Linked DNA regions of Homo sapiens. The protein of the gene in region 1 purifies or fractionates together with the protein of each later gene. This does not show direct contact. Each region holds a gene or a part of one and is shown on either strand. Other genes may lie near its edges. The genes, in order: AVL9 and MTMR12.

What was found.
Region 2: the proteins of AVL9 (region 1) and MTMR12 fractionate together in Homo sapiens (co-fractionation; one large-scale study listed by BioGRID). This does not show direct contact.

The regions. Positions count from the first base shown.
Region 1 is NC_000007.14:32,557,975-32,561,786, reverse strand, and holds part of AVL9 (late secretory pathway protein AVL9 homolog), read right to left. Parts: intron 3,229-3,812; coding exon 3,159-3,228; intron 2,859-3,158; coding exon 2,323-2,858; intron 1-2,322. UniProt on the Homo sapiens protein: Functions in cell migration.
Region 2 is NC_000005.10:32,309,990-32,314,597, forward strand, and holds the start of MTMR12 (myotubularin-related protein 12), read right to left. Parts: upstream 2,951-4,608; 5' UTR 2,850-2,950; coding exon 2,769-2,849; intron 1-2,768. UniProt on the Homo sapiens protein: Acts as an adapter for the myotubularin-related phosphatases. Regulates phosphatase MTM1 protein stability and possibly its intracellular location. By stabilizing MTM1 protein levels, required for skeletal muscle maintenance but not for myogenesis.

The DNA.
Region 1 (3,812 bases):
AAGGAAGGCATGTCAAAAGCTGAGACAGACAGAAATCTATGCCTCTTGCACCAAACAGTTAGCCAAGTTGTCGATGCAAAAGAAAAGTTTTTGAAGGAAATTAAAAGTGCTACTAAAAGTGTTTTTGTTTTTGTTTTGTTTTGTTTTTTAAACCAGTGAACACACAAATGGTAAGAAAGTGAAACAACAGCCTTATTGCTGATATGCAGAAAGTTTGAGTGGTCTGGATAGAAGATCAAACCAAACAGAACATTCCCTTAAGCCAAAGCCTAATCTAGAGCAAGGCCTTAACTCTCTTCGATTATATGAAAGCTGAGAGAGCTGAGAAGATGCAGAAGTATGAAGCCAGCAGAGTTAGCTCACAATGTTTAAGAAGCCGTCTCTATAACATAAAAGTGCAAGGTGAAGCAGCAAGTGCTGATGAAGAAGCTGTAGCAAGTTATTCAGAAGATCTAGCTAAGGTCATTGATGAAGGTGATTACAGATTTTGAATACAACAGATTTTCAATAAAGACAAAACAGCTTTCTATTGGAAGAAGATGCCATCTAGGACTTTTGTAGGTAGGGAAGAAGTCAATGCCTGGCTTTAAAGCTTCAAAGGACAAGCTGACTCTTACTGGGGGCTAATGCAGCTGGTGACTTTAAGTTGAAGCCAGTGATGATTTACCATTCCCCAAATCCTAGGGCCCTTCAGAGTTATGCTAAATCTGCTGCCTGTGCTCTAGAATGGAAAAACAAAGCCTGGATGACAGCACATCTCTTTACAGCATGGTTTACTGTATATTTAAGGCCACTGTTGAGACCTACTACTCAGAAGAAAATAAAAAAAGATTCCTTTCACAATATTACTGCTCATTGACAATGCACCTGGTCATCTAAGGGCTCTAATGAAGATGTACAAGGAGATTAATGTTTTTCATGCTTAGGAACACAACGTTCATTTTGGAGCCCATGGATCAAGGAGTCATTTTGACTTTCAAATCTTATTATTTAAGAAACACATTTCATAAGGCTATAGCTGCCATGGATAGTGATTCCTTTGATGGATCTGGGCAAAGTAAATTGAAAGTCTTCTGGAAAAGATTCATTACTCTAGATGCCATTAAGAACATCTGTGATTCACAGGAGGAGGTCAAAATATCAATATTAACAGGAGTTTGGAGGAAGTTGATACCCCTGTCATGAATAACTTTGGGGGGTTCAAGACCTTGGGGGAGATTTGGTGGAAACAGCAAGAAAATTAGAATTAGAAGTGGAATCTGAAAATGTGACTGAATTGCTGCAAACTACTGATAAAAACTTGAACGGATGAGGAGCTGCTTCTTAGGGATGAATAAGGAGAGTGGTTTCTTGTGATGGAGTCTGCTCCTAGTGAAGAAGATGTGGTGAATGTTGTTGAAATGACAACAAAGGATTTTTATTCATTTATATTTAAATAAATTAAAAATTATTTAATAATTAATTGTACTTCACTTTATTGTGCTTTTAACATTATTATTTAAGTTTTATTCACTTTGTTGTTTTTTTAAAATAATTATTAAATTTTAAATAATAAACATTTATTATTTAAAAAATAATAGAGTCTCCCTCTGTCACCCAGTCTGGAGTACAGTGGTGTGATCACAGCTCACTTTAGCCTCAACCTCCAGGGCTCAACCAAGCCTCCTAATCTCAGCCTCCCAAGCAGCTGGGACCACAGGCGCGAGTTACCACATCTGGCTAATCAAACTCCTGGCCTCAAGTGATCCTCCTGCCTCAGCCTCCCAAAGTTTTGGGATTATAGGCATGAGCTACTGTGCCCGGCCTAAAGTATTTTTAAATTAAGATATGTACATTAAAAAAAAGACATAATGCTACAGCGCACTTAATAGACTACAGTATAGTGTAAACATAACTTTTATATGCACTTGGAAACAAAAAAATTCCTGAGACTCGCTTTATCACAGTGTTCTGTAACTGAACCATAGTATCTCTGAGGTGTGCCTGTATTTATTGAGTGCAATCAAGGCTGTCTGGACTTCCTTAATTCTGTTTTTAAGGAGAAACCTGAATAATTAAAAATAGACCCAAGAGAGTGATTGTGCATATGACTCATATCTACTAAGTTTCAAAACATTTACCAATCAAAATCCCCTATATACTTCCCCATAGACTTATACTATGGTCACGGATGCCACAGTACTATGTATTTGGTTGTACTTTACAGTTTTCAAGGAAATTTTTCCACCTGAAAATGTGTTGAATACCAAAAGTTCAAAAGTTAAACTCCGAAAGGATTTTTCAAATTCTTTAAGGAATTCGATAAAAAATATTACACTTTACCTTTGTGAAGATGGCCAGGGGCATGCCATACTGATCCTCTTCCAAACCCGAAATGAGCCCTGGTATCAGGACTACCTGTCCCGTATTAGCTTGAGGTTGTACAGTAATTGGAAGACTCTCTGAGGGGACAGAGTCCTTTGGAAACAAATTTGTCTGGTCTGATCCCAGCTGTTCCCTTTCTTTCAAGTTGGGGTCCTCTAAGACACTAGGATCCAAAGTTTCCCAGTCACTTTCTGAAGAATCTGGAGATGGGCGAGATGGAGGTTTCAAATATTGATTGGTATCATTGGGTTCCTGCCCTTTGCTGCTGTCTTCCACTTGGAACAAAGGCTCCTCAGTCTTCATGGCAGCATCTTCTCCATGGTTTCCTGCCATGACTTTCCTGATAGTTCCCAAGTTGGTATGTGAAACATCAGCAGTGGATGCAGAAACAAAATCATCTGCACATGGGTTACTTTCCTGAAGCCCACCATCTTCAGACATACTTTTCCGGGGTCTATACTGAGAACAGTCACTGAGACCATGTTCAATCATGCCTAAAATATGCAATATCAAAGAACAGCTTGGCTTATAATAATATGGAAGAACCTGAGAGCTATATATTAGTAGACTCCCCTATAAAATTTAATAAGCTATGCTTGTACACATTTTAATTAAAAACAAAAAGAACAGAAAGAAGCCCAGACAAAAGAGAGAAACCTATTTCCAAAAGGAAGACGTCATATTAAAATAGAAAGGATAACCCTAACGAATTTATCTTTGAAACTTTATTTCTAAAAGTTTAGGTTCCAGTACAAGTTAAACAAAAGAAAGAGTAGATACTGCTGTTTTCTTACCTGGAAAAAGGGATAACACAGTCATCAGTGCACCCACCAATTTATTCACTGGAGAAATATAAAAAAGAACCTGGAATGGAGTCAATCAAAATCAAATTAGAAGACCCATGAAGCCGTCCATAATGATAACAAATAAAAAAGAGGGAAAAATTCCTTATATAAGAATAACAGCTGGCCGGGCGCAGTGGCTCATGCCTGTAATCCCAGCACTTTGGGAGGCCGGGGTGGGTGGATCACGAGGTCAGGAGATCGAGACCATCCTGGCCAACATGGTGAAACCCCGTCTCTACTAAAATACAAAAACTTAGCCGGGCATGGTGGCACACGCCTGTGGTCCCAGCTACTCAGGAGGCTGAGGCAGGAGAATCACTTGAACCCAGGAGGCAGAGTTGCAGTGAGCCAAGATCACACCACTGCACTCCAGCCTGGCTAGAGAGCGAGACTCTGTCTCATAAAAAGAAGAATAACAGCTGCTGGGCTTGGTGGCTGGCTCACACCTGTAATCCCAGCACTTTGGGAGGCCAAGGCGGGCAGATAATGAGGTCAGGAGATCGAGACCAGCCTGACCAACATGCTGAAACCCCGTCTCTACTAAAAGTACAAAAATTAGCCAGGCATGGTGGCACACACCTGTAATCCCAGCTACTCAGGAGG
Region 2 (4,608 bases), on another chromosome or scaffold:
GCAAGCCCACTGCTAGGTATACACCCAAAAGAAAGGAAATCAGGGCCAGGCACGGTGGCTTACGCCTACAATCCCAGCACTTTGGGAGGCTGAGGCAGGAGGATTGCTTGAGCCCAGGAGTTTGAGAGCAGCCTGGGCAAAGACAGCAAGACATCACCTCTACTAAAAATTTTAAAATTAGCCAGGTGCTCTGGCATGCACCTGTAGTCCCAGCTACTTGGGAAAATGGCTTGAGTACAGGAGGTGGAGGCTACAGTGAGCTGTGATCACGCCACTGTACTTCAACCTAAGCGACAAAGCAAGATCCTGTCTCTAAAAAAGGAAGAAAGGAAATCAGTACATGGAAGAGAAATCTGCACTCCCATGTTTATTACAACACTATTCACCACAGCCAAGATTTGGAAGCAACCAAAGTGTCCATCATCAACAAATGAATAGATAAAGAAAATGTGGTACATACACACGAGTACTATTCAGCCATAAAAAAGAATAAGATCCTGTCATTTGTAACAATGAACAGAACTGGAGGTCATTATGTTAAGTGAACTACGCCAGGCGCAGAAAGACAAACTTTGCACGTCCTCACTTATTTGTGGGAGCTAAAAATTAAAACATTTGAACTCATGGAGACAGAATGATGGTTACCAAAAGCTGGGAAGGGTAGCAGGGGAAAGGGAAGTGGGGATGTTTAATGGGTACAAAAACACAGTTAGAATAAGATCTAGTAAGTGATAGCACAACAGGGTGACTACAGTCAACAATAATTGTATATTTTATAATAACTTAAAGAGTATAATTGGATAGTGTGTAACACAAAGGAAGGATAAATGCTTGCAGTGATGGATACCCCATTCATGCATTGTATGCCTGTATCCAAAGATTTCTTTCTTTTTTTTTTTTTTGAGATGGAGTCTCGCTCTGTCGCCCAAGCTGTAGTGCAGTGGCGCGATCTCGGCTCACTGCAACCTCTGCCTCCTGGGTTCAAGCGATTCTCCTGCCTCAGCCTCCCAAGTAGCTGGGATTACAGGTGCGCACCACCATGCCTGGCTAATTTTAGGGTTTCACCATGTTGGCCAGGCTGGTCTCCAACTTCTGACCTCAGGTGATCCACCCACCTCAGCCGGCCCAAAGTGCTGGGATTACAGGTGTCAGCCACCATGCCCAGCCCAAATATTTCATGTATCCCATTAAATATATACACCTACTATACCCACAAAAATTTTTTAAATGTTTAAATGTTTTAAAAAGACACAAAGAGAAATTGACCACATTGCTTAAATGTGATACCACAAGGGAAGCCCGCTGAAACTTTAAGATGACCCTGACTCCACATCAAGTGCTAACAGAGGAAATGGTTTGTATTTTACAACTAGGACTAAAAATAAGACCCATTTTAAGAGCACTTTCCCCTGGAGAAAACACACATATCTTGAATTTAAAGATACATATGCAAATGCCTCAGGCCCCAGGTGGTCTTTACGGAAGCAGTCCCTGATCAGATCTCTCATCCACAGCCCACGTGCTTCTGCATTACAGAGGTGGGAAGACATCTGCAACAAATTTGGCGGTGCTTCTGCACTTCTGCTGGAGAGAAGGGCAGAAAAAAACCTTTACAGATGCAAAACAAGAAGGCTTCTCATTAGGCATTTGGATTAAGAACTATTGCTCAAGAAGCCCTGAGCAAGGCCTACAAGTTCTGATCTCTCTAACCTCCTCTCCTATGACTGTCCCCCTTGTCCATGGGCCTCTGCCATGCTGGCTTCCTTGACGCTCCGCCAACCCTTCAGACACACTCCCACCTCACGACCTTCCCGGGGGCTGTTCCCTCTACCTGGACGACTCTTCTCTCAGACCTCTCGTATCTTCAAGTCTCGGCTCAAATGCCACCTTTGCGAGGAGGAAAAAGATTTCTTTTCTTTCCCATGATATTTATCACCTCCTACTACACCGTATAATTTACTTAATTATCTATAATTCACCCCGTTTCTCCTTTCCCCCTCAAATAAGCTCCAGGAATGCAGAGATCTCTGTCCTGTTCACTGATGTCTATCACAAGCACTTAGTGCCTGACACACAGTAGGAGCTCGAGAAGTATTTTCTGAATGAATGAACAAATTTCTTGACCTGAAGATTCAGAAGAGTAAGAAGTGGGTGGAAAGGATGATGGTGAGGGGATGAGGAGAAAGAAGCGACAGCGGAGAATTCCCAAGGGAGAGACAAGCAGAGACTGGCTGAGGCCAGGCCGACCCCCTTTTCTCCCCGCAGCGCTGACGGGAGGCGGACGTAGGTGCAGGGCATCCCGCCAGCCGCACCCGAGGCACTCAGACGCAGGCAGCGGAGGCCGGCGGGCTTCTGGGCTCACTGAGAAAGTCCAGAGGCAGGACGGACCCACGCGGGCTCCGAGCAGGCCCCGTTGGGGGCTCCGACCCACGGCCCTACCCCTCCCAGCAGTGCCCACAACCCCAGGTCCTCTCCAGAATCCCCAGGGGCGTTCCGGGCCGCAATCCCTTCTCGGCTCGGGCCCCTCCACCAGCCTCCAGCGCTCGGGCCCTGCGCTCAGGCACCTGCCTGCCTGCGCCGGGGTCCCCATTCCGGCCCGCGCGGAGGCCCCAGCGCGCTCCTGCGGCCTCAGCCCGCCTGGCTGCCCCGTCGCCCGGCACAAGGGCAGGAAGCGCTCCGCGGCGCTCCCCGCTGCAAGGAAGGGGCTCCCGGCGCCCCTCGCCCCGGCCGCCCCTGCCCGACGCCCCGCCTGCGCGGCGCCCCCTCACCTCAGGGCGTACGTACGACACGAAGGAGGGCTTGGGGGCCTTGGTGCCGCCGCCACCGCCGACTACTCCTTTCCCCAGCATACCGCCGCCCTGGGAAGCAGCGACGCGCGGACGCAGAGGCGGCGGCTCGGGCTCCAGCTGGGGCAGCAGCGGCGGCCACCAGCACTAGCGGCTGGGGCTCCGCCCATCCCCAAGGCCGCGACCGCCGCGATGCCGCCCGCATCCGGCTCCGCCGCTGACACCGCTCGCCCCGCCCAGGCCCGTGGGCCCCGCCCATCCCGTGCGCGGGCCCAGAGAGCCGGGAGACCGCAACTGGAGGCCACGCCCCCCCATCACGTCAGGAGAGTTTGACCCGCCGAGATTCACCACCTTCCTGCGGCAGAGCCCGCCCTCATGCTTTCTCTGATTGGCCCGAGGCGCTGCCGGCCGAACCCCGCTCCCAACCCATTCTTGAGTGCACTTGGAGAGATGTTTCCTCCAACCAATCCAGAGAGCGTTCTCTCCGGACTTTCCAACGATTGGATGGCGAGGATAAAACCGTCGTCCAATGATCCTGCAGTCACCAAGTTGTCGTTAGCAGGGGTTCACGGCAGTCGTTTTCTTCCGTTTGCTTGTGTCTTTGGAATAAAACGTCCAAAAATGGGATGTATGGAATCTTGCTATAGGAGTTCCCAACTTACAGCGATGACGTTCAAGGTTTTTTATTTTATTATTATTTACTTTTGAGACGGAGTTTTGCTCTTGTCGCCCAGGCTGGAGTGCAATGGCGCGATCTCTGCTCATTGCAACCTCCGTCTCCCAGGTTCAAGCGATTCTCTTGCCTCAGCCTCCTGAGTAGCTGGGATTACAGGCGCCCGCCACTATATCCAGCTAATTTTGTGTGTGTGTGTGTGTGTGTGTGTGTGTGTCGTTCTGTCGCCCAGGCTTGAGTGCAATGGCGTAGTATAGGCTCACTGCAACCTCTGCCTCCCAGGTTCAAGCGATTCTCCTGCCTCAGCCTCCCGAGTAGCTGGGATTATAGGCGCCTGCCATCACACCCGGCTAATTTTTGTATTTTTAGTAGAGACGGGGTTTCACCATGTTGGCCAGGCTAGTCTCAAACCCCTAACCTCGTGATCCGCCCGCCTCAGCCTCCCAAAGTGTTGGGATTAGAGGCATGAGCCACCGCGCCATGCCGCTAATTTTTGTATTTTTAATGGAGACGGGGGTTTCACCATGTTGGCCAGGCTGGTCTCAAACTCCTGACTTCAGATGATCCACCCGCTTCGGCCTCCCGAAGTGCTGGGATTACAGGCGTGAGCCACCGCGCCCGACCTCAAGGTTTATTATTTTAAATGTAAACAAAAATGAGACAAACGATGACTCACGCCTCTAATCCCAGCACTTTGGGAGGCCGAGGCGGGTGGATCATCTGAAGTCAGGAGTTTGAGACCAGCCTGGCCAACATGGAGAAACCCTATCTCTACTAAAAATACAAAAATTAGCCTGGTGTGGTGGCGGGCGCCTGTAATCCCAGCTACTCGGGAGGCTGAGGCACGAGAATCGCTTGAACCAAGGTTGCAGTGAGCCAGGATCGCGCCACTGCACTCCAGCCTGGGTGGCAGAGCAAGACTGTGTCTCAAACAGAAAAAAAAAAGTGTCAAATCAAGTGTTAACAAGGCAGTGAGGAATAAGTTTGAGCGTTTGATAATAAAAGACTTTGTCAACTTCATTTTTCCAAACCTTTCCCTTCTTTGTGTTTCCAACAGGAAGAATATCAAGAGCCCTTAAGAGACTTCTATTTACTCTACGAAGTTATTGATAAAACCCTCATTTTTTAGTCAAGATTGCAAAGAAAATT